2 separate regions of the Homo sapiens genome follow, and region 2 is linked to region 1. Evidence: fine-mapped expression QTL. A gene starts in region 1. The other region holds a variant in brackets. All regions are shown on one strand. Distances are between the middles of the regions. Region 1 holds the start of ABCB7 (ATP binding cassette subfamily B member 7). Region 2 overlaps ZDHHC15 (zDHHC palmitoyltransferase 15).

What was found. PIP is the estimated chance that this variant, and not a neighbour inherited with it, causes the effect.
Region 2: its variant is the best candidate, but not a certain one, in a credible set for the expression of ABCB7 in aorta (GTEx, PIP 0.65).

Annotation. Positions count from the first base shown.
Region 1 is chrX:75,150,146-75,162,685 of GRCh38, reverse strand. ABCB7 (ATP binding cassette subfamily B member 7) reads left to right here and starts at 6,403. Exons shown (of 16, transcript NM_001271696.3): 1 at 6,403-6,581. The coding sequence starts at 6,414. It also overlaps a transcript of UPRT not described here. RefSeq lists an enhancer at 6,293-6,722.
Region 2 is chrX:75,366,292-75,378,831 of GRCh38, reverse strand. ZDHHC15 (zDHHC palmitoyltransferase 15) reads left to right here. Exons shown (of 12, transcript NM_144969.3): 12 at 5,887-10,405. Among named protein-coding and RNA genes, the nearest start is that of UPRT, 98 kb to the right of the region's middle. The variant TA/A (reference allele first, on the strand shown) is at 4,445.

The DNA.
Region 1 (12,540 bases):
AATGGGTTTTATAGCCAGAGGTATCTTAGTGATATTACATTAATAGACAGATATGAACCCTCATCAGGCTCAGCCTATTAAAAATTGATGTCACACTCAAGCCTATCCACCCCTTTGTAACCCATCTTATTAAAATAATTTTCCAGATAACTAATTTTTCTCATTCACATTCTCTCACCCCACTTCAACATCTTTTAGAATATCTTGAAACTGCAACTTGGAGAGTTTAAGATGAAAACTTTGAAGTGAGTTCTGAGAGCTTAAAAACATCATACTGAGTTATTAATCTATAGCTTTATCATGGGTCTACATGCCACACAGATAAAAAGACAAGTTTTCACAGTTCACTGGATCCTTCATACCAGAGTAAAACCATGGAGCTTTAAAACAGCAAGCAAGTTAGATCTTCAAGAGACTTGAAATTAGGGTATACCTGCTGGGCGTGGTGGCTCACGCCTGTAATCTCAGCACTTTGGGAGGCTGAGGCGGGTGGATCACCTGAGGTCAGGAGTTCGAGACCAGCCTGACCAACATGGTAAGACCCCCGTCTCTACTAAAAATACAAAAAAAAAAAAAAAAGAAAAGAAAGAAGGAAATTAGGGTATACCTAGAAATATTTCTAAGGGATACACATGATGACTCTTGGGATGGACCCAATGCATAGTGTTCAAAAGGAGATGATTCTTATTGTGCCATCTACATGGGGTCCCACAGTCCTACGAAATTCCCACAAGATTATTTTTGTCGAGATAAAGCTGGGTCACTGTTTTATAATACATAGGATTGCCCACAATATTACAGTGAAAACAGATTTGGCATGCCCCCTAAATCCTACAGGTGGTATTGACACATACAAGAAAAGGCAGCATAGTTTAGGTTGGCAGCATAGACTTTAGTGTCAGGTTTAGGTTTGAGTTTTGACTCCGCTGTTTACTAGGTAAGCAATCTTGGGAAAGTTCTTTAATGTCTGTAAGTCTCAGGTTACATCAGCAGAAAAAAATGGTAATTATAATAATAGCTACCTCATACAATATTGGAGAGGATTATATGATCATGTATGTAAAGCAGTAGCTACTCCCTGTTACAGATGAAGCACTCGATAATTAATAGCTGTTATTATTATATATGAGGATTAAGATATTATTTTGCATGATATGCAAAGAAACCAGCTCATTTACAAATTTGTAAAAGATTTTTTTTCCCCTGGAGGTTAAGCATTAAAGTTTACCAAAATCTCTAAATTTTTATTAAGTTAAAAAATAACTAAAACTTTGCATTCATTTTTAAAATTTAATTTTTATACAAACAACTATTATTAAAACCCTCTATGGCATGGTGACAAGGAGCATGGGCTCTGGAATCAGACCTTCTGGATTTGGATATCATCTCTACCACTTCCAAACTACTTGGGCAAGCCCAGAGCTTTCTTTTCCTCATTTGTAAGGTGGAGATTATAACAGAAACCACTCTTTATGTGCGTTGAGTGGATTAAATTCGATGATACAACTTAAAGCACCCAGTGCAGTGCAGTGCAGTGCTTAAAACAGAATAAATGCCCAATAAATATTCCCTTCAAAAAAGGGAAAAAAAGTGATAAACATAACTTTAAAACAACTACTTATTTTGTGCAATGTTCTCCTAAAATCTCAATAGTAATAAACATGTGTGTATGTGTTTATATATTCATACATATAAATGTATATATATGTTTGTTTCTTCTTTATTCAACATTATTTCATATATACTTTCCCATATACAGTATCAACGCAAGTACATACATATACTTTTCAAATAATAGCTGTTGAGGTATTTCGTTGAACTGCTTTTGGAATATTTGGAATTATTTTCAAAAGTTGCACTGGTCATGGTGGCTCATGCCTGTAAATCCCAGCCATTGGGGAAGCTGAGGCAAGAGGATCACTTGATGCTTGGAGTTTGAGACCAGCCTGGGCAACATAGCGAACCCCATCTTTAAAAAATTTTTTAAATATATGTCAGGCACTGTCGTACACACCTTAGTCCCAGCTACTTGGGAGGCTGAAGCGGGAGGATCCCTTGTCCAGGAGCTTGAGGCTGCAGTAAGCTGTGATTGCAACACTGCACTCCAGCCTGAGTGACAAGAGCGAGACTCTGTCTCTAAAAAATAAATAAACAAATAAAGTAAAACGACAGAAAAAGTTGCTATTATTAATAACACTGATATAAACATCTTTATGCAATGCACCTTATTTTGGGGGAAGGGTAATTTTGGGCTGCATTTTTTAAAGTGTAAACCAGGTTAAGAGGTATACAATAGAGACAAGAGGGCTAACTGACAACATGTAAGAGACACTACCCTACAGACTCCAAACACAGACAAGTTGGTTAAAAGTAGCAACAAAAAGCCCCAAAGTTTTTAAAAAATGCATAGTTGAGCTTGAAAGCAAACAAAGGAAATGTCTAGAGGTTAGAAAACGAAGAGGAAAATCAAACCTATTTATCGCCTCTTCCTTACAGACTCCACCAAAATAACATAAAAGAATAAAACAGAAATAAATCCACAAGGATAAAGAGACTAGGATTAGAGAAGGGCAATGCCGGGATCTTCAACTAAGTCATTATTTTTAAGATCTAAGGCAGGCTGGGCATAGAGGTTCACGCCTGTAATCCCAGCACTTTGGGAGGCCGAGGCAGGTGGATCACGAGGTCAGGAGATCAAGACAATCCTCGGTGAAACCCCGTCTCTACTAAAAATACAAAAAATTAGCCGGGCGTGGTGGCATGCACCTGTAGTCCCAGCTACTCAGGAGGCTGAGGCAGGAGAATCGCTTGAACCCGGGAGGCGAAAGTTGCAGTGAGCTGAGATTGTGCCACTGCACTCCAGCCTGAGCAACTGAGTGAGACTCCATCTCAAAAAAAAAAAAAAAAAAAAAAAATTTAAGGCAAGTATCATAAAATCTTAAGCTATGACTAAGCTGGGTTGTAGGTACATGGTGATTACGTTTTTCTTTGTAATTTTCAGTTATGATTCAATATTTCCAAATGTTAAAAGTACATGGAAAATAAGTTAGTTTCAGAAAGTGATACGTGCTCTAAAAGTGCCTCTCAGACTTGAATGTGCATATGAACAACCTGAGGCATTCTAATTAAAATTCGGATTTTGAATATTTAAGTCTGGCATCGGGCTTGAGATTCTGCATTTCTTTTTTTATTGCTATGTAATAGCTGTACATATTGTTGAAGTACATGTGATATTTTGATACATGATGCATATGATATCATAAACAATATATACAACAAGGTAATAATCAAATAAAGAAACATTTAGCTTTTCTTTATGTTGGGAACATTCTCTTTCTTCCAAATGTGGTGTACATACACAATAAAATATTGTTCAGCCATAAAACAATGAAATCCTGTCATTTGCAGCAACATTGATGGAACTGAAGGTCATCATGCTAAGTGAAATAAGCCAGGTACAAAAAGACAAATACCACATGTTCTCACTCATATGTGGGAGCTAAAAAAGTATATCTCATGAAGGTAGAGGGTAGAATAGTGGTTATCAGAAGGTAAGAAGAGCAGAAGGGAGGGGACAATGAAAAGAGGTTGGTCAATGGGTACAAAAATGTAGTTAGAAGGAGTAATATCTAGTGTTCTATAGTACAGTAGGGCAGGTGACTATAGTTAACAACAACTTACTGTATAGTTCAAAATAGCTAAAAAAGATTCTGCAGTTCTAACAACCTCTCAAGTAATGCCAATGCTAGTGGTCCATGGATCACATTGGAATAGCAAGATTTTAAGGGAAATAACACAAGGCAATGGTGATACAGAGTGGTGGGGACAGGGGGTGGCCTCTTCAGATAAGGTTCTCTTGGAAAGCTTCTCTAAGCAGGTGACATTTGTTTTGAGACCTGAAAGATAAGAAAAAGTCATTTAAAAATCTACAGGAAAGATATTCCTGGTAGAGGGGAAAGCAAGTGGAAAGGTCCTGAGGTGAGAATAAGTTCTGGTATTTTTTAGAAACAGAAGACCACTGTGGCCTTCTTAAATTGCTCAAGTGTTTCTTCCACATTTCAGGTGTTATTAAGTGAAAAGAGCACTATGTTTGGAGTCATAAAACCTAGGTTTGGTCTCCATCCCATTAGCTCTGTGGCCTCTGACCTAGTCACAACTTTTCTTAGCCTCAGTTTCCTCATAAATATGGGCATATTAATAAATAATACCTATCTTCCATGGTCGATGTGAGGACTAAATGAAATAAGGTATGACAAAGCGGATTGTAAGTTACAAAATACTATACACATTTAATTATTGCATACATAAAGTGCTATCATGTGATCTGTGGTTGTAGCAGCTATTTATAGCAGCTTTTATTGTGTATACCTCTGTCTCTTTAATTTATGTCAGACAGTTATGTGTCAAGTTATTACAGGCTGAGTTGGCCTTTTTGTTGCTGCTCTTCCCCAGCAGTGTGCAACTCTTATTATGCCTCACGTTCTATTTCTGGGTGCCCTGGAAATTTTCTTCGGCTTATTTGGCAAATAAATATTTGCCTCACTTTAGCTCATCATAGAGTAACAACTTGGGTATTTCAATGTTATTCACACTTTTTGATCAAAACAGTTGGCTTACAATGAGCACTACTTTTGGAAAAAAATAATTTGGCTCCATTCAAAGACTTTACAACTGGGTGGTAAGATTCAGTGGCAATATTCAGCCCTAAGAGAAATCATTAGTAGAGTCTAGAGTTTCTCTAATGTATACTGTAGCTGTCTAACACAGAATAGATGCTGAATAAATATTTGTTGATGACAATATAGTCATTAATATGAAGCCATTACTGATCTACTGTCAACAATACAATAATAAGCTAGAAACATCCAATTAGTCACTAAGTCTTGCCAATTCCATCTCCTAATTGCCCTGCAATCGATCTACTGCCACTGCTACTGCTAGGTTGAGGCCTTTATTTTATGACTGAACTATTGCATTAACTTCATGACTTCAATATGAACTCCGTCCAATCCAACCTTCTCACTTAAGCCAGAGTAGCTTAATGGACATATAAATCTGATCATGTTACTCTCCTGATTAAAACTCTTCACTGGTTATAGGATAAAGTATTAACTTCTTAGAATGAAATAGAAGGCCCTTTACCATCAGGTCTCTGTTCACTCAGGTTAACCTCCTACTACTTTCCCAAACTCCATAGACTCCTGAACCTGAAAATATTTTCTTATGCCTTCTTGCTTTTAACATGTCATCTTCTTTACGTGTAATTCCAGTCAACCTCTTCAACTTGAATTCTATTTTTCTTTAAATAACTAGCTCAAGCATCCCCTTGAATGAATCCCAGAACAAAAAAGCTAACTGCATGGGCTACAGATTTCTGTTTTTCTTTATCAGACTTACTAGTCCAAAGTACCTCTTCATAAGAAGTCCATAATTATTTGTCTCTTTTGTGTGAAAAGTTGGAGAATGCAGCAGTGAATATAAAATTGCAACTGCATTATTGTCTCCGGGGTTTCAGGTAACATTTACAACTGGAAATGCAGTTTCCTAGATAACTGTAAACATATTTTGACATTTTGTTTGATAATAGTGGTGACAAAAGAATATAAGCCTGTCTTTAAACATGGTCTTCTCTCCATACATTTCACTTTACCACCCTTCAGCCAACCTAAGCGATTTTTCAAGAATTAGGGACGCTGCAAAAACCAAAGCGAAGAGCTAGAAAGAGTGACAAAATTAGTAAAGATGTCTGTAGTCTCTCTGTGTGTGTGTGTGTGTGTGTGTGTGTGAGACTGTCCCACGAGCAACAGACCAAAGGAAAACTGCCCCAAGGTTTGCGCAACAGAGAACAATCAGCAAAGTTAAAGTCCTTACAGGACAGAAAAGCAGTAAATCTTACAGCTGAAGCCTCCTCCCAGGGGAAATTAACGTCTGTAGTTTAATCTTTCCTTAATTCAGAAGGGAGTGAAGATAAGAATATGCATAGGGAAAATGGAGAGAGGGGAGCGTGACATTGAGTTGGAGGAGGTAAGAGAGTATTATGAGAGACAAGATGGGGTTGACAGATTTAGCAGATACAATATTTGGGACACACGCACGAAGAGATGATTCGTTGTTTATGTAAAATTGAAACTTAACTAGGTAGGCATCCTGTATTTCATCTGGCAACTCCAGGAAAAGAGAAAAATACAGTGTTACTCCAATATTCCCGGTTGTGTAAGGAAAACAATCAAAGCTCGGCCCTAAGGAAAAACAAATAAAAGAGGCTGTGCGAATGCATCCGAATCTTCAAACAGAATCCATTTCCGGTCTGGGGCCCTGGGAAAACAAGAAGAGGAGAGACAATTAAGGTAGCCGAATTCAGTCCGCCAGTGTCCCATAATCCTCTTCTCTCGGTTCCTCTTTCCTCGCTCAAGATGGCGCTGCTCGCGATGCATTCTTGGCGCTGGGCGGCCGCGGCGGCTGCTTTCGAAAAGCGCCGGCACTCCGCGATTCTGATCCGGCCTTTAGTCTCTGTTAGCGGCTCAGGTCCGCAGTGGAGGCCACATCAACTCGGCGCCTTGGGAACCGCTCGAGCCTACCAGGTGAGATGCCACTGACATGGAAGAATAGGGTGAAGGGCAAGGGGACCTGTAGGGAAAAGGTTGCCCTCCTGACCTCGGGGCAGAGAGAGCACCAAGAAGAAAGTCATGGCTAACTGGGAGCAGCAGTAAGTGAAGGAAATTAACGTCAGTAATTTGAGGAAAGGGCGAAGAAGAAAACCTTTGAGTTCAGCAAAGGGAAACGGGGCAGGAGGTTCTGGGCAGAGGACACCTGGAGCGCTGGAGGCTCTCGGAGTCATAGTTTTTCTCTCATATTAAGAGTTGGGGTAGACACCATTCCCAGCCTGCTTGCCTTTCTAAAGACGAGGAAGACTGGATTATTTTCCCCAATTAGTAATGGAATTTGGGACAGTTTATCTGTGGTTCAGATTTTACTCAGTTGGAATTAGCAATTCGGAGAGCACTGTAATGACAGCAAGCTATCTATAAACAGGTGGCGCCAGTTAACTCCCTTGCTGACAGGCGTGCTTCTTGATAGGCCAAAACCGTAACTATCTTTCCAAAACATAGACCGCCCTAAATTCTTGTATAAATATGACTGTCCTAGATCTGAAAAATACAGTGATGTTCTCTGTGCACAGGTCATTTTGGAAGCCATAGGCTACTTATCCTTAACTTATGAATGTAGCTATGGTTGTAGTGCCTCCTAAAATTTGAGTCCATTATTACCTCTCACTCAGGAACGGTTTTTTAAAAAATTATTTGTACTTAACTGTACTAAAGTATATCTTTTTATTTTCTGTGTATTGACAAGAGGTTTAATTGCCACCACGTATTTATCACTATCACTTTAAAATATTGTCAGTTTTGTATGAGAAACAACCTCTTAAATTTTGATTCTTCATCTACAAATATTTAACGTCTACCTTGTACATAGCCCTGTGCTAGATGATAGGGTACTAAGAGAGACATACAGTTATGCCTTCAAGGATTGTACAGTTTAGTTAAGGAGATTGGATCTATGCATTACAAAAATAACTGAAAAACACAGTGGTGGGTTAATTAGCAAATGAATAGTATGTACAATAAAGGCTATAGGCATCCAGAGGAAATAGTGATAATTAAGGACCAGGTTATAAAGAGTATTTCATGCTGGTGATAGAACTGGGGAGAATGTTCTGAACAGGGAGAATAGGGAATGACACTAAGCATGTGGAAGGCTGATGGAATGACATTTATAATTCATTCAGTAATTATTGAACACCTCTACAGGAGCAAACAAAATATAAGTCCTGTCTTTAAAGAGCTTAAAATCTAGTGGGAAATATGTAAATTAATCGGCAATTAAAATATAGTGGAGCTGTGTAATAATGGGAAAGGTACAAGGTATGGGACAGTATATGTGAGGGGTATTAAGTCTAATTGTAAGGTAGTGAAGATTGCCTTAAGTAACTGATATCTAAGGCAAGAGCTGAAAAATTAGAAGTTAGCCAGTTAAAGAAGGAATCGCATGTGCAAAGGCCCACAAGTCAGAGAGAACATGGACCTTTTCTAGAACTGCACGTAGTTTAGACTGTAGTGAGTCATTCAAGATAGGAAATAGCAGATTAGGCTAACGAAGCGAATCTAGATGATTTCATTAAGGTTTTTAAAGTATTTTATGGTTGAAAGTTTCTAACACATGATCTCTTGGGAATGGTTTTTGTTCTGTAGTTCTCCAATAAGGCAGATGAAGTTAAGATAAAATTTGTAAATGTTATCTTAGATAAAATTAGATATCTTAAGATAAAATTTCTTAAGCTGGAAGAATGAGGGGGAAGAGGGAAAAGGAGAAGTTATTAGGAATCTCAGAGGAGGCAATGGCAATACAAATTTAGCTTTCTCTCTTTCCATGAACGCTATCTCCACAACTTCCTTCTTCCACTCTGTCCTTTACATCCTACCATTTCCTTTAGTTACCATTTCCTCAGTGTGCAAAACAAGGGAAAGATGTTACCTTTGTTTTCTGTTTCTTAAAGGCATGGAACTCTTGCCATCCTTTTTTTAAAACAGGGTGAGAAAGGAATGATTACAAAGTTTTCAAAGTAGAAGCTGAGGTAACCTGAGGTACCTGCAAATTTGTGACTTGTGATTAAGATTACAAAATAATTACTGAATTCATACTTTTAGGACGATCATTAGTATATAGCATAATATTTTAGAGCTGAAAGGAACCTTAGAGCAGTGTTATGAAATAATGTTAGTGGGTTGGATTAGCACTTTTTTAGATGAAATTCAGTAGAATATAAAGAAAATAGCAGTGCTTTTTACATCTTAAGTGAAGTATTGTTTCATGAACTTTTATGTGTATATACACACACACATATATATTTTATATATATATATACACACACACACACGCACACACACACACACACAGTCCCACATGTATGTGATTACTGGAATTCATTGTAAGTATTTCTCACCCAGTATATGCCCTAGACCTGGGTTGTGGAATATGGTAGTTCTTTTGGATAGGTACTGTTTTGTTTTCATTTGTTGGTCTGACCTCATGGACCAAGAATGGGAGCTTTAATTTCTCCCAGTAGCAAGTTCCACCTTCCTACTCTTCCACCATTGGCTGCTAAGAGTTAGCAGAGTAGATAAAAATTAAAATACTTTACTCCTGGCTTTCATATTAACTGAAGTGGGAATATAATAACAACACTAGGGAAATAATCCTCCTATTCTATATTTTAGAGGTTCTAGTTCATATTTAAATTTAACAATATAAGATGCCTATGAAGAAACTACAGTGATTATTCAACAGTCGTCCCAAAATATACTAAAAGAATAGAAAACAGAACTTATTCATCCTGGCTAACATGGTGAAACCTCGTCTGTACTAAAAATACAAAAAAAATTAGCCGGGCATGGTGGCGGGCTCCTGTAGTCCCAGCTATTCGGGAGGCTGAGGCAGGAGAATGGCGTGAACCCGGGAGGCGGAGCTTGCAGTGAGCTAAGATCGCGCCAGTGCACTCCAGCCTGGGCGACAGAGCAAGACTCCGTCTCAAAAACAAGCAAACAAACAAACAACAACAACAAAAACAGAACTTACAAGAGAAATAAGGGTGTCTTTAAGTGGATTATAGATCATGGAACTGAAAAGGGTGAGAGGTGATTCAGTGACATTTAAAGTACCTGAAGCGGCCTGGCCCAGTGGCTCATGCCTGTAATCCTAACACTTTAGGAGGCCAAGGCAGGTGGATCACCTGAGGTCAAGAGCTCGAGACCAGCCTGACCAATATGGTGAAACCCCGTCCATACTAAAAATACAAAAAGCAGCTGGGCATGGTCACGTGCACCTGTGACTACAGCTACTCAGGAGACTGAGACAGGAGAATTGCTTGAACCCTGGAGGCGGAGGTTGCAGTGAGCCGAGATCGCGCCACTGTACTCCAGCCTGGGCGACAGAGCGAGACTTCCTCTCAAAAAAAAGAAAAAAAAAAAAGGACCTGAAGGGGTTATTTGTAGTTCAGTGATGCCTAAACTTAACTGGAACATTAGGTTATGATACAAAGATGTGGACTTCATTTGCAGGAAGAGGGATTTAATGTGCATATGAGAAATAATTTCTTAGACTAATAGTCTATCTTAGTCTGTTTGGGCTGGTATAACAAAATACCATAAACTACATGACTTATAAGCAAGAGCAATTTATTTCTCACAGTTCAAGGTGCTGACAGATTTAGTGTCTGGTGAGGTCTTGAGGTTCATAGGCGGTGCCTTTTAGCTGTGTCCTCATGTGGTAGAAGAGACAAGGCAGCTCTTTGGCCCCTCTTATAAGGGAACTAATCCTGTTTATGAGAGCTCTACTCTCCAAGTCCTAATCACCTCCCAATGACTCCACCTTTTAATACCATCACATTGGTGATTAAGTTTCAATATAGGAATTTTAGGGGGACACAAATGTTAAAAGCATAGTCCTTTTATTAGGAGACCAATAAAGACTTTTAAAATTATTAAACAATAATTTGCTGTCATTAGAAAAATACGAGCTGTTAGGAAGCAGCCAGCTTGGTTTTGAAAAGAGCAAGACATACCAAACCAATTATTCATATGAGTGAGTGACAGTCTATCTTGATTTCAACACGGCTTTTAATTGTCCCCTACATTGTTCTCACACAGTAAGCTTGGAAGGAATGATATTGAATACTATTAAGAGGTCTTGAGGTAGGAGTAAGCCTTACTGTAAAGAAAATACAGATGACTTAAAAGATTTTTATTTCTAAATGTTAAAAATAATGAAATAACTGGTGTGCAAAGGGCATAACTTGGTATTGTGGGATGAACACTGGACCAGGACACTTGACCGCCTGAGCTCTATTTGTACTGTTAATTATCTTGGACACATAACTTGTTCTTTTGGACATCAGATCCTGTAAACTAGTAATATTTGACTACCAGATCTCTAAGGTTTCTTGCAACTCTCTTGTTTCTTTACTGTAATCCTTTAGGACCAGCCCTTTTTATATAGTACCTCTACTTTGTGATCCTAGTTTACTACTGGTGTAGTATTCAGGAGCAACATAGGGTAAGTTTATGTTCACATGAATTTTTAATGGGACAAATTTGTATTGTTCTTGTCATATTTGTATATCTAAGAGTAGGAATAGAAAAATGTAATTTAATTATGAGCTTAGTATTTGGTAGTGTTGGGAGGATGGAAGTAGTGTGGAGGAAAAAGTAAGCTAGGTTCCGAAATCATCTGGGATGGTAGAAATAGATTCTAAGGGGTGGTGAAGAATAACAGTAATGCTATAAAAGTTGTAAATAAAGATATACCTTACATGGGCTGTATATGGTAAGGAATGGAAAGTGGCACTGGGACTTGAGAAGAGGAATTCAGGGGATTCTTTTTTCAGATATAGTTGAATAAATAACATTCTCTAAGTCATTGACACATTGGTTTTAACTAGTTATTAAGATTATTAGGAAGAGGAAGAAAATTTCATGTTTCTAAACTTTCTTTTAGAACACGAGGCCCTTTGAGAATCTGATCAAAGCCATAGACCTTCTCCCTAGAAAAATATACATACGTATGTGCTTCATTTTGCATGCAATTTCAGGGGAATCAGAAACCTATCCCCTCTTCCAGTCAGTAATCCCTGATTAATACAATATTGCTGGCTGGTGGGTTTCTAATGGTGTTCCTGAGTAGCCAGTGGCAAGATAAAGAGCACTTGTCACTGGGCAGCGGGGTAGAAATAGAGTGGAAACTTACATCAAAATTTTGATTAAATGATAAATGCATAATTGATCATTTAATTATTGTTATACAATTGTTATAAAATTAATATCATTTATTGCTGTATTGTTGTCAGTGTTATCTTAAAGATTTTGCTTTTTCAAAGAAAAGTATGTTCTTTCCCATATTGTAAAATAAGGTATATAATAAGAGATAAAATTGCCCATTCTGTATACGATTCTTATGCTTTACATTGTCCCCATTTTAATTATACAAAACCACATCTAATAAAAACGTCAAGACAGATATCTACAATCCCACATGTTAAATAATTTTTCCTTTTTCCTTTGAATCTCTGTTCTTTCATGTACATAATTTTTACATTATTGGGATAATTTTAAATTCTGTTTTTACTTGTGAGCATTTTTTTTCTTGGTGCTCAGTCTTGACCAAAATTAGGTCTTTTAATTACTTAAGATTTTAGTAATGTTAATAGGTATATATAGTTACCTGCAAAATGTGATATTTTTGTTGTTTTGATTTTCTCCTTCCTTTCCTGAAATCCATCTCCCTGAAGTCCTCATCTGTGCTCTCTTGACTCCCTTGTAGGATTTGCCACTAGTGAGTAAAGATACTTTTCAAGTCTTTATTTAATGTCATTTGGTCTTCACAGTAATCCGGTTAGGTAGATGAACATTTCTTTGTAGTAGCAATGGCCTCTTCTGTCCTTTTCAGTCCCTTAACTTCTGCCCTAGTTTTAGACCCTTATTACTT
Region 2 (12,540 bases), 220 kb before region 1:
ACTGTGAATTATAAGCCTCCTCCTGTTTCATTCCAGGTCTCTGAAATGGTACAGATTACAAATAGCTTTCTTTTGCCTGACTCCATTATGTCAGTTAATAACCTAGTCTTCCCCACTAAGGGCAAAAAAGCATCCTTCCTACACTGTAACCCTCCTAAAATGCTATGAGTTTGTTAAGTAGTGGCAGACAACTTTACACATGGGATTCTCTTTGGCCTGGTGAAAAGCTCGACGACCTTCTTTTTGCAACACTCACAGGTATAAACCCAGTGTAATTAAATATTAAAAGAATGTTAGTAATAGAAATACCATAGAGCTTATAGCTCTGATCGGATGAAACTTCTAATCCTATTCTCATGAAAAAAGCTAGCAATTATTCAGAAGCTTACAATCTGTTCGTGGGTTCCCAGGTCTTCAGTTCTTTCCCTTACAGAAATTCTGCTGTGTACAAGTGTACATATTGTATAAAACTTTGTATATGCCAGCCACTTTGGTGTGTACTTGATATATATGATCTTATTTAATCCTCACATCAACTGTAAGATGAATGTTACTATTCCCATTTTACTTATGAGAAAACTGATATGCAGAGAGGTTAAATCACTTATCCAAGTCTGCATATGTAGTAAGTGGCCAACCTAGGGTTGTAACTCAGGTCTATCTGACCTCAAAGCATGCTATTTCCACCATGGCACTACATTTCAAAATCTGAGTTATTTGTGATGTGTCTTTATTTATTATCAAAGATTAAAAAAGGAGAGAACCAAGTCTGTTTCCTTATCCAAAGCCCTGATGAAATGTTTGATGTTTAGGTAAGACAACTTATATGATAGTAATATCTAGATTTGGGTTATCTGTGGTGCTAATCTGTCTATTTTATTTTAGTATTTTCCTAGGGGAAACACTACTACTTTGGCATGGTAACAGATGTTAAAGGGAAGAAAAATTATCTGGTAAATAAATTTATAAAACCCTATATAAGCAAAATTAGAAAGTTGGCTTTAGTGTAGGAATTCTCAGGGGTTTTACTACACTATTGAGTTTTGTGGCTCACCAAAAGGAGGTTGTAGTGGTCCCTTAAATTTTATTTAACTGTTGGATCCTTTCTTTTTTGTGCCTATCATGGAACCTAGTATTTCGTGCAATACTTATCAGGACCATTAATATGCTAAGGAACTTTGAAATGCATTTTTTATATACTTCCCTAGATAAGCAAAATTGCCTTCAAGCAATGCCTTATGCCTTTTACAGGGCACTCTGTCCAAATATATTAATAAAGTGATTCATTTTGTGGAAATCACAAACTCATATATACATATATATATATTTTTTTTTTGAGATGGAGTCTCACTCTGTTGCCCAGGTTGGAGTGCAGTGGAGTGATCTCGGCTCACTGCAACCTCCACCTCCCAGGTTCAAGTGATTCTTCTGCCTCAGAACCCAAGTAGCTGGGATTACAGGTGTGTGCCACCACGCCCGGCTGCTTTTTGTATTTTTGGTAGAGATGGGGTTTCTCCCTGTTGGCCAGGCTGGTGTCTAACTCCTGACCTCAAGTGATCTGCCCACCTCGGCCTCCCAAAGTGTTGGGATTAGCCACCGTGCCGGGCCTCATATTCTGATAATAATAGAAAAGTACTTGGGAACACAGGAGGGAAGAGTGGGAGAAACCTTTTAAAACTTATTAAGATATGAAGAATTGTTTAAACTGTATGTAGATAATTACTACAGTGATATTTGTAAAAAGCTCCAAACTGAAAACAACCTGAATGTCTATCAGTAGAAGAATGCATTAATACATTATATATGTCCAAGTAATTAGATATTTAATATATATTTCCCTTCATTTTCTTTTGAAGTTTTTTAAATAAAAAAGGATGAAAGAAAACATGAATCCCTTGTGTTTAAAATGTAGAATCAATGCTAATTTTTTCATTTTGCCTCTAAATTTTGTATATAAAAAATTATTGCCATAATTTTTACCCCAAAAATGTACTTATTCTAGATTATATTTTCTTCAAAATGAAAAGACAAACTTGAAAAATATTTGCAAACTATACAACACACAAAATTTAATATGCTTAATTTACAAAGCTCTTGCAAATCAGTAAACAAAAGAAAAACACAACAGTTAGAAAATGGGCAAAGCAACAAAAGAAAGCAATGAGGAAAGAACTCTCTATTCAATTAATGGTGCTGGGATAACTGGCTAGCCATATGCAGAAGACTGAAACTGGACCCTTACTTTTCTCCATATGCAAACATTAACTCAAGATGGATTAAAGACTTAAATGTAAGACTTCAAACTATAAAAATCCTAGAAGCAACCCTAGGAAATACCCTTCTCAACATTGGCCTTGGCAAAGAATTTTTGGCCAAGTCCCCAAAAGCAATTGCAACAGAAACAAAAATTGACAAGTGGGATCTAATTAAACTAAAGAGCTTCTGCACAGCAAAAGAAATTATCAGTAGCAAAAACAATCTACAGAATGGAAGAAAATATTTGCAAACAATGCATCTGACAAAAGTTTAATATCCAGAATCTATAGGGAACTTAACAAGCAAAAAAAAAAAAACAACCCCATTAAAAATGGGCAAAGGACATGATGAACAGACGTTTCTCAAATGAAGACATACAAGCAGCCAACAAACATATGAAAAAAAATGCTCATCATCACTAATCATCAGAGAAATGCAAATCCAAACCGCAATGAGGTACTATCTCACACCAGTCAGAATGGCTATTATTAAAAAGTCAAAAAATAACAGATGCTAGTGAAGCTCCAGAGAAAAGGGTATGCTTATACACTGTTGATGGGAATGTAAATTAGTCCATCCACCGTGGAAAGCAGTTTCAAGATTTCTCAAAAACACTTAGAACTGCCATGCCACCCAGCAACCCCATTACTGGGTATATATACCCAAGGAAAATAAATCCTTCTAACAAAAAGACTTATGTACATATATGTTCATCACAGCACTATTCACAGCAGCAAAGACATGCAATCAACCTAGGTGTCCATCAACAGAGGACTAGACAAAGAAAATGTGGTACATGTATATGATGGATACTACACAGCCATAAAAAATAATGAAATCTTATCCTTTTCTGCAACATGGATGCAGCTGGAGGCCATAATCCTAAGAAAATTAACACAGAAACAGGAAACCAAATAATGCATGTTCTCATTCATAAATGGGAGCTAAACATTGAGTACCCATGGAAACAAAGATGGCAACAATAGACACTGTGGACTACTAGTTGGGGAAGGACAGAAGGGGGTGGGTTGAAAAACTACCTATTGGGTACTATGCTCACTACCTAGGTGATGGGATCTATACCCCAAACCTCAGCATCACACAATATACCACCTAACGAACCTGCACATGTACCCCGAATCTAAAATAAAAGATGAAATTATTTTCAAATTTTGTAAAAAGTAAATGGGCAAAGGATGCAAACAATCAACAAAATAGAAATTAAAATGAAAAATAAACATTAAACTTGTTCAACTTCACTGTAAAGAAATGCAAATTAAAATAACCTAAAATACTAATTTTTATCTATTAAGTCAGCCAATTTTTACAAATTACAGTACCTATTGTAGGCAAGGACATGCTGAAACAGATGTTCTTATACAATGCTGATGTGAGTTTAAATTCATAGATCATTTTTTGAGTGCAACTTGGAAACACGTATAAAAACATTAAAATCTCATACTTTTTTAATTCAAAGAAACTAGCACTTTAATTTTATTCTGCATTTTTGTGCCTTTATACTACAAAAAAACTATATACTTTTATAATATACAATCTGGTGAGTTTTGAAATACGTTTACATCTGTGAAACCATCGCTGCAATCAAAATAATGAATATATCCATCTCTCCCAAAGGTTTTCTTCTGCACTTTTATAAATAACCCCTGCGCCATCACCAGGCAAACACTGATTTATTTCGTTACTATCAGTTTTCATTTTCTAGAATTTTAAACAAGTAGATCTGTACAAATGTATTTTTTTGTTTTGTCTGGCTTCTTCCACTCAACATAATTGAGATTCACCTTTGTTGCTGTGTGTAAGGATAATTGATTTCTTTTTATTGATGAGTAGTATTCCACTGGATATATACATATATTATATATATATACACACACACACACACACACACACACACACTAAAATTTACTTTTCCATCTATTAATGGATATCAGAAGTGTTTCTAGTTTTTTGCTCATACACATAAAGCTGCTATAAACATTTGTGACCAAGACTTTGTGTGAACCTGTGCTTGGGTAAGTACCAAGGAGTAGGATGGCTAAGTCATATGGTAGGCATAGAATTTTTTTTTTAATGAACCATTTTTCTATCCTGTCCCTGTGTGTGGTAGATGCTCACTCTCTCATTCTTTCTAGATAGCTTTATCAGATTAAGGAGGTTCCCTTTTTTT[TA/A]AATTATACTTTAACTTCTGGGACACATGTGCAGAACGTGCAGGTTTGATACATAGGTATACATGTGCCATGGTGGTTTGCTGCACCCATCAACCCGTGGTATATCTACATTAGGTATTTCTCCTAATGCTATCCCAAACCTAGCCCTCCAGCCCCCGACAGGCCCCGGTGTGTGATGTTCCCCTCCCTGTGTCCATGTGTTCTCATTGTTCAACTCCCACTTATGAGTGAGAACATGTGGTGTTTGGTTTTCTGTTCCTGTGTTAGTTTGCTGAGAATGATGGTTTCCAGCTTCATCTATGTCCACTTATCTGTGGAAGCTAAAAATTAAAACAATTGAACTCATGGAGTTAGAGAGTAGAATGATGATTACCAGAGGCTGGGAAGGGTAGTGGAGGGGTGAGTGCTGGAGGGGAATTGGGGATTGTTAATGGCTACAAAAAAAAAAAAAAAAAAAAAACAGAAAGAATGAATAAGACCTAGTATTTGCTAGGGCAACAGGGTAACTATAGTCAAAAATAATTTAATTGTACATTTTAAAATAACTATAAAAGTATAACTGGATTGTTGGTAACACAAAGGATAAATGCTTGAGGTGATGGATACCTCATTTACCAAAATGTGATGATTATGCATTGCATGCATGTATCAAAATATCTCATGTAATACATAAATATATATATACCTACTATGTACCCATAAAAATTAAAAATAAAAATAAATTTAATAAGATATGTTATCCAATTTTCCATCATCATAATGTTGTGAATAATATCACTAAACATAAATCTTTCTCCTCATTTATAATCATTTCCATAGGATAGAATCCTGGAAGCAAAATTACTGGTATGAATTTTTTAAAGGGTCAATGGATAAGGCCAAATCATTTTCCGGAAAGCTTAAACAAATAGCTACTTGAGGGCCTACTATATGCCAGATATTGTTTCAGGAAGATTATATTATACCAGTTTTACAGATGAGTAAACTAGGATCCATTGACATTATTTTTCTAGAGTTATGGAGATAAGAGGCAAAGCTAGAATTCAGCTTCATAATTGCCCAATTTCAAAGCTCTTGTTATTTCCATGTGGATTTCAAAAATAGTATTTTTGAAGTATCAAATTATATATTTACTAAAGAAAATGTGGAAAATGCAAGTAGAAGGTAGAGAAATGAAAACAAATTACCCATGAATCCACCACTTTCAATAGTTCAGTGTATTTCCTCAGTCTCTTATTCCAAATGTAATTTTGGGGGTCAAAAATATAGCATTGTATATATAATTTTATATCCTGCCTTTTTCACTTAACATTTTTCAGTGCTGATCTATACTCTTCATAAATGTAATTTTAATGGTTGCATATTATTGTCAAGTGGGTGTTACCACATGAATATTTACAGTTGTTCAGCTCATCTGTGAATTTCTTCTCTTCATTCCCAGGACTCACCATCTCTGCCTCCCATGAGGCTTACAGAGTTCAATGTTGGAAATCATTGTAATCTTCAAAATAAGTCACCGTGTTGGATTGAAAGCTTCAAAATTTGAAAGAATTCCATCAAATACTTGCTGTGTAAATGTTTCTGGACTTTATGTTATTTAATTTACTGACTGAAATCCAATTTGGAATTTGGTAGCAGTTAATTCAAGCCAATTTTTTTTGTTTCTTCATTTCCCCTCCCCCAATCCATGAAAGCCTAAATGTAAAATATATCTTTTCATTCATCTTATCAGGTAAAAGGAAATTCAGAAAATTTCCTTAGAGTCTTTAATTCCCCCACAAAGATTATTAATCACATATATAGGGCCTTTTTGGTGTTGAAGGGAATCAAACTACATTTGCTGCTTGTGTGCGTGTGCATTTGTGAACACGTACAGCATATCTATACAAAATTCTGCTATAGTGTGAAAATCAGGGCTAAAAACCTGAAGCCTTTGTTTAATTATGCTTTTCCTCTAAATAGCAACTTAAATATTTGCTAGACTTTGAATCATCGCTATATCAAGTATCTAAAATTTGGGAGGGTGAATCAGTACACTGTGACCAAGGTCCTCAAATTGGAATTTGAACAACAATGTAAAACCTGTTCTGTCACAAATGTTCCTGAAAGCACCACAGCTACTCAAGAAGATCAAATTCAGGACATAAACTTTATTGAACATAATAACCAGTGTTTTTTAAAGACTTTTTTGTCAGGGTGCAGTAAAATTCTCCAATTACTTTTATTCATTTATCTGCTTCCTAGTTTTATTTTAGCCTTTATGAGTTATTTTATGATGAAAGAAAATCTATAAGCCTAAGTTATGGCCCATAGGTTTTGTTAAGGGTTTTCAGAGTGATTTTCAGGTTTAATTTCACTGCCTTTCATAAGGGTAAAGTTTCACAGCTGACATTAGCCTGAGGATTAGCACTAAAGAGCTGTGTTTTCATAGCAGGGGCTATTGTACAGACAGTGATAACCAAATAGTAATATGCCAGTTCTTTCTTCTTTTTTTAGCTTCAGTAGTAGCTAAGCCATTAATACAGTTTGCATCAATTTCCCCATTTATTTATAATCAGCCTTTCTTTTAGTCCTAGTGCCTGAATCAATGAGTGAGAATACTAGTACTGATTCTTTACAATAATAATATCTTAAGAGTATTGATATCTTTCATTTTTTCATCCAGCAGTCTAGTGCCCAGCTGCTGACAATAAAAGCTCCAACTCTTTTAGAGATCAGTGGAATTTAGAAGCATCTTACAGGTATCAAGGAATTGAGCTTCTAGAGGGATGGTTTGGCTTACTAATTTATCTTCCCTGAAATATGTTTGAGTAAAAAAGAGTTGCCTGCCACAATTTAGTGTTGGGGTTCCAGTGGAGCTGAGAAAGTGAACAATCCAGCTACTTAAAGCAACAACAAAACCTGTTCATCTGGATCCCTAGGTAATTTTGACCAAGGTGAGACTTTTGGCATAAATTAAATGGATTGTGGTCAGCATTACATTTGAGAGAATACTAGACATGACTACACTTATTAGGGCTAGTGACTTTCTCAAACTCAGAAGCTAAAAAGCAGCCTAGATGACTATGCACACACTGGGTTTCAAGATGAAATCTTCTTATATATTCAGATGGAAAAAAATTTCCCCTTACACTCTTTCTCAAAATACTCTCATTTCGGTTTTTCCTGAAACCTTATTTGGCCATTCCCATGGTTTTATGACAGACAAGCCTTGTCTTCTATTCATATAGATATGCACCTTTTTCTACATGTATGGCCTTTACTTACTACACAGCAAGTAGGCCTCAAAGTAATCTTCCTCTTTCCCATCAATCATCTTCTGCCAAGCATTCAGGCAGAGCAGCTGTTAACTGTGATTCAAAGTCAGAAAAACATCAAGAACTTCTTTGATGCATAGGGTGTATCAGCACTCAGCTCCCACAGAAGTCAAGTCACAAAATATAGTGTCAGTTAACTATAAGGAAGTTCCGGAGAGGTAAAGCTCAGGAAAGATGTAATGCAAAGCTGATTGTTTAATGTCTTACAGATTTACACTGTCTTTAAAAGGCCAAATAAGGCTGGGCGCAGTGGCTCACACCTGTAATCCCAACATTTTGGGAGCCCAAGGCGGCCGGACCACCTGAGGTCGGGAGTTCAAGACCAGCCTGACCAACATGGAGAAACCCTGTCTCTACTAAAAATACAAAAATTAGCCAGGAGTGTTGGTGCATGACTGTAATCCCAGCTACTCAGGAGGCTGAGGCAGGAGAATCGCTTGAACCTGGGAGGTAGAGGTTGTGGTGAGCTGAGATCGTGCCATTGCACTCCGGCCTGGGCAATAAGAGTGAAACTCTGTCTCAAAAAAAAAAAAAAAAAAAAAAAAAGCCAAATAAATCAGGGTTTTACCAGGGGCTCAGAGATAAAAAGAAAACCTATTCCTATCTTAGCATTTTGGTCTCATTGGTTTATAGACTCTGATAATATCCCTATCCATGGATCATTTGAGTATTGACTAATGTACATAGGTACCCAACTGGTTGATTATTAATCAAGAATACAGAACTTTATTTAATAATTAGCACACCCTGATCTGGCTTCTTTGCTTGCTTTTCTTTGGATCCCTGTCCAATAACCTCTGTGGAATCTCATTCCCTAATTGTTGATACTCATTTTCTCCGTTTGCAAAATGAAGATACTCATTGTTAGGATCCTACTGCTGAAGGGTGCTATGTCACTTTCTAGTGCTCTTATATGTCTTTAATTATAGGACTGGAATGAAAAGCTTAACCATACAGTATTTCTAAGCAAAATAATGTACTCCATTCTTTTGTCCATGCTCTCATTGCTGATTTGTTCTTGCAGGACTTAGAGCACTTTGTTAATGTTCTTCCATTCACTCCAACAGCGTCCTCAGAAAGAGACAGAATAAAAAAATTGTTCCCCATGGTACAGCTGGAAAAATTAAGGGGAAAAGAGATTAAGTGGTCCCCAATGGAACACAGCTGTCTTATGCAGGGCTCACAGTTACCATGTTCAGTACATTGTTAAAGTAACTTGGCTTCCCAGGACTGGAATTATCATGGAGCAGTTAGAATTTTGAGAGTAATTACAACAGGATCACATTCTGAAAGAGTCACATTTTGTCAAAAATCTGAAAAGTATGCAATTTGTACAACTCTTACTTTCTATGTGATAAGAATGCAATATGTGCCTCTTTCCCCTACTAGCCCCATGTGACACATATTTTTCACACTATGTGGCATCAACCAGTGCCATTACCTCCTGTGGCACCATAGAGCCCAATCTCAGGGCAGACATTGCCAAGGTAAAGAATGCACTCCATGTTTATACCAAATTGCACAAAGTATAGACATTGAGGTTAATGGAGATTTAAGCACAATCCTAGCAAGTAAGTTTTAAGAATACTGAATATTATACATTATTGTAACATGAACCTAAAATTAATTTAACAGGGCCCAAATTCATAGGAATGTAACAGTCATTGAAAGCCTATTCTTTTCACCTCTCATCACACATATCTACATACATGTATGCACATGTACACACACACACACACACACACACACACACATACACATTTTCTCCAAAGCAGGCTGCCTCTTCAGCAGGAGCAAATACTTTAATTTAAAAGAATGATTATCTGTTTTCTCCTTTTAGAAAAAGAGTCTAAGAAACACAGCATGTGAAGAACATTAGATTTATACATTCCAGAATCTCTGCTCTCAGAGTAGCTAAGAGATTCGGTACAGAAGACGTTCTATGGAGAAGCACAGGGGGCATCTAATGAGATTGTCAGGCCCTTGGACAAGATCCATATTCTTAGAAAATTAATGAGTTCCATCTCGTTAGGAATTGGTTGATGAGGTATGGTACATCTGCATTTCTTTAACCATAGCTGTAATGTACCATATTAAATTGTAGCCTTTTGCATGCGGGTATTATATAATAATGAATGGGTGGCTCCTAGTAGCATGCAACCCATGACTGTTTACTTCCCTAAAAGGGTTAGGTCTGTGTCCTGCACAGTGTTCAAAACCATTAAATGTGTTCTTTGTAGCAGGATGGTACACAGCCATCAGCAGAATGAGTTAAAACCAACAATGAATTCAATATACCAGGAAATAGATTGTTAGTAGGGAATGGCATTAAAGGAAAAAAAAATTAGATAAGATGCATTCAAGGAATAATTACTTTCACTCTGCTGGCTTAATCAGTGAAGGAACATAAAAGGAAAGCTGGCAGTGGGTCTTGGTAATATATGAACTATATTAGAGTGCCAGAAAAGGAGACCTCAGAAGTTAAGCATAGGTTGCCAATCTGCTACAATTATTTTTCCCACCAATCTGCTCAAAATGATTGTATATAGTATTCTTAAAACCATGTGTCTTGGTGCAGAAATATTGACAAATGCTGGCCAGCTTTATCTTCCTATATCCTTCATTAAAAGTATATGCATATAATTGTTGGTTTTTTTTCCTAAATTGTGGCTTTGTTAAACAATGTTGACAAACCCTAAAGTTTCAGACTACTCTAAGGAAGTTTCTATACATCTAATTTCATAGGGGTATAGTGATGTTTGTTCACTCAGGTTGATTGGTATGCGTGGTATGTAGACTTCTCTGTAACATCTCACCTTCTGAACAGCCCCTTCCATGTGTTCGGTATTTCTGTCTTATGTTCCTACATGAATATGAATTGGGAAATTAGCTGCAATGGCTTTTAGATAGAAAGCTGACCAGTCTAGTGACACTTAATCACATTCAGTCTCTACTCAGCCTCACACATCTTTTGCCTTTCACTCTGCCATTGTGATGAAAGGAAAAAGAAAGAACTTTTCTTATGTGCCTAAGGGTGAAGTGAACTCTGGTTTGCTTTTTCTTACACTGAAGGCTATGTGTACTATTCTCCAGATGCATGTCACCTGAAAAAAGATACATAGAGGGGAACAACAGACACTGGGACCTATCAGAGGGTGAAGGGTGGGAGGAGGGAGAGAACCAGAAAAAATAACTAATGGGTACTAGGCTTAATACCTGGGTGATGAAATAATCTGTACAACGAACTCCCATGACACAAGTTTACCTATATAACAAACCTACACATGTACCTCTGAATTTAAAAGTTAAAATAAGTATAAACAAAACACACTAAAAAAGAAACACAGTAGCCCACTTACTCCTAACTCATACATTACCCTCAGAGAAATATTTGAGGAGACCCTCATTAAGGTAAGCCCCAGATAAGGTTTCCCTCAATTGATGCACCATTTGCAGGAAAAGTCCTTTTTCAGACAGAATGGAGAAAGCCCCCAATTAGCCAACCAGGAAGGCAGAAGTCATTCAAAATGCAGAGCATTGAAAACTGAAGTTTGGAACAGTCATTGCTGACTTTCTGACCAATTAATAATGGAGAACTTGAATCACTTAAAAGAAGCCCAACCCATAGATGTCAGGCTTAACACAAAACCAGAAAAAAATCTTTTATTCCAGCCAAGCTTATTTTTTTTAAAAAAAGTACTTACTTTGTCCTAGGTAAAGACCTCAAATATCTCTGTAGAAAATCCCATGTCATTTATTCTAGTGAATCAGTTACAAAGAGCTCATATTACAAACAAAGTGTTACTGGAAAGGGGTCTGGACCCAGACCCCAAAAGAGGGTTTTGGATCTCATGCAAGAAAGAATTTGAGGTGAATCCATAAAATGAAAGCAAGTTTATTAGAGAAGTAAAGAAACAAAAGAATGACTCCTCCATATGCAGAGGAGCCCAGAGGGCTGCTGGCTGGCCACTTTTATGGTCATTTCCTGATTATATGCTAAACGAGGGGTGGATTATCCATGCGTTCTCCAAAAAGGGGTGGGCAATTCCAGGAACTGAGGATTCCTCCCATTTTTAGGCCATATAGTGCAACTTCCTGACATTGCCATGGCATTTGTAAACTGTAATGGTGCTGGTGAGAGTGTCTTTTAGAGTGCTAAGGCATTATAACTAGCATATAGTGAGCAGTGAGGAAAATCAGGTCATTTCCATTACCATCTTGGTTTCGGTGGGATTTGCCTGGCTTCCTTACCACATGCTATTTTATCAGCAAGGTCTTTGTGACCTATATCTTGTGCTGACCTCCTACTCATCCTGTGACTTAGAATTCCTAACCACCTGGGAATGCAGCACAGTAGGTCTCAGACTCATTTTACCCAGCCCATATTCAAGATGGAGTCACTCTGATTCCAATGCCTCTGACATATCTTTCCCCTCCTTTTTATAAGAGAACATTTAATCCTAAGGTTTGTAGAGGGTTGAAGATCCATCTTCTGTAACTTTTTCAGGCTGAATAAGGGTGATGACATTCCTGCCTAATTATTAGGGTCTCCTGTAGTTGGAGTAGAGAGGAGCTCAGTCAGAAAGTGTCAGTATGGTGAGGGCCATTTATAACTCTGACACAAGGTGATATCTGGAATATTAAAAAGTGTTCCATTTAAAGAAAACAGTAAGCTTATCCTGTATTCCTACAAAAGGGTACAACAGCAATATATTCCACAACAATAAAGCAAAATAAGTAATACTATCCCAACTAAACTAAATAAGAAGGTTTTCCAT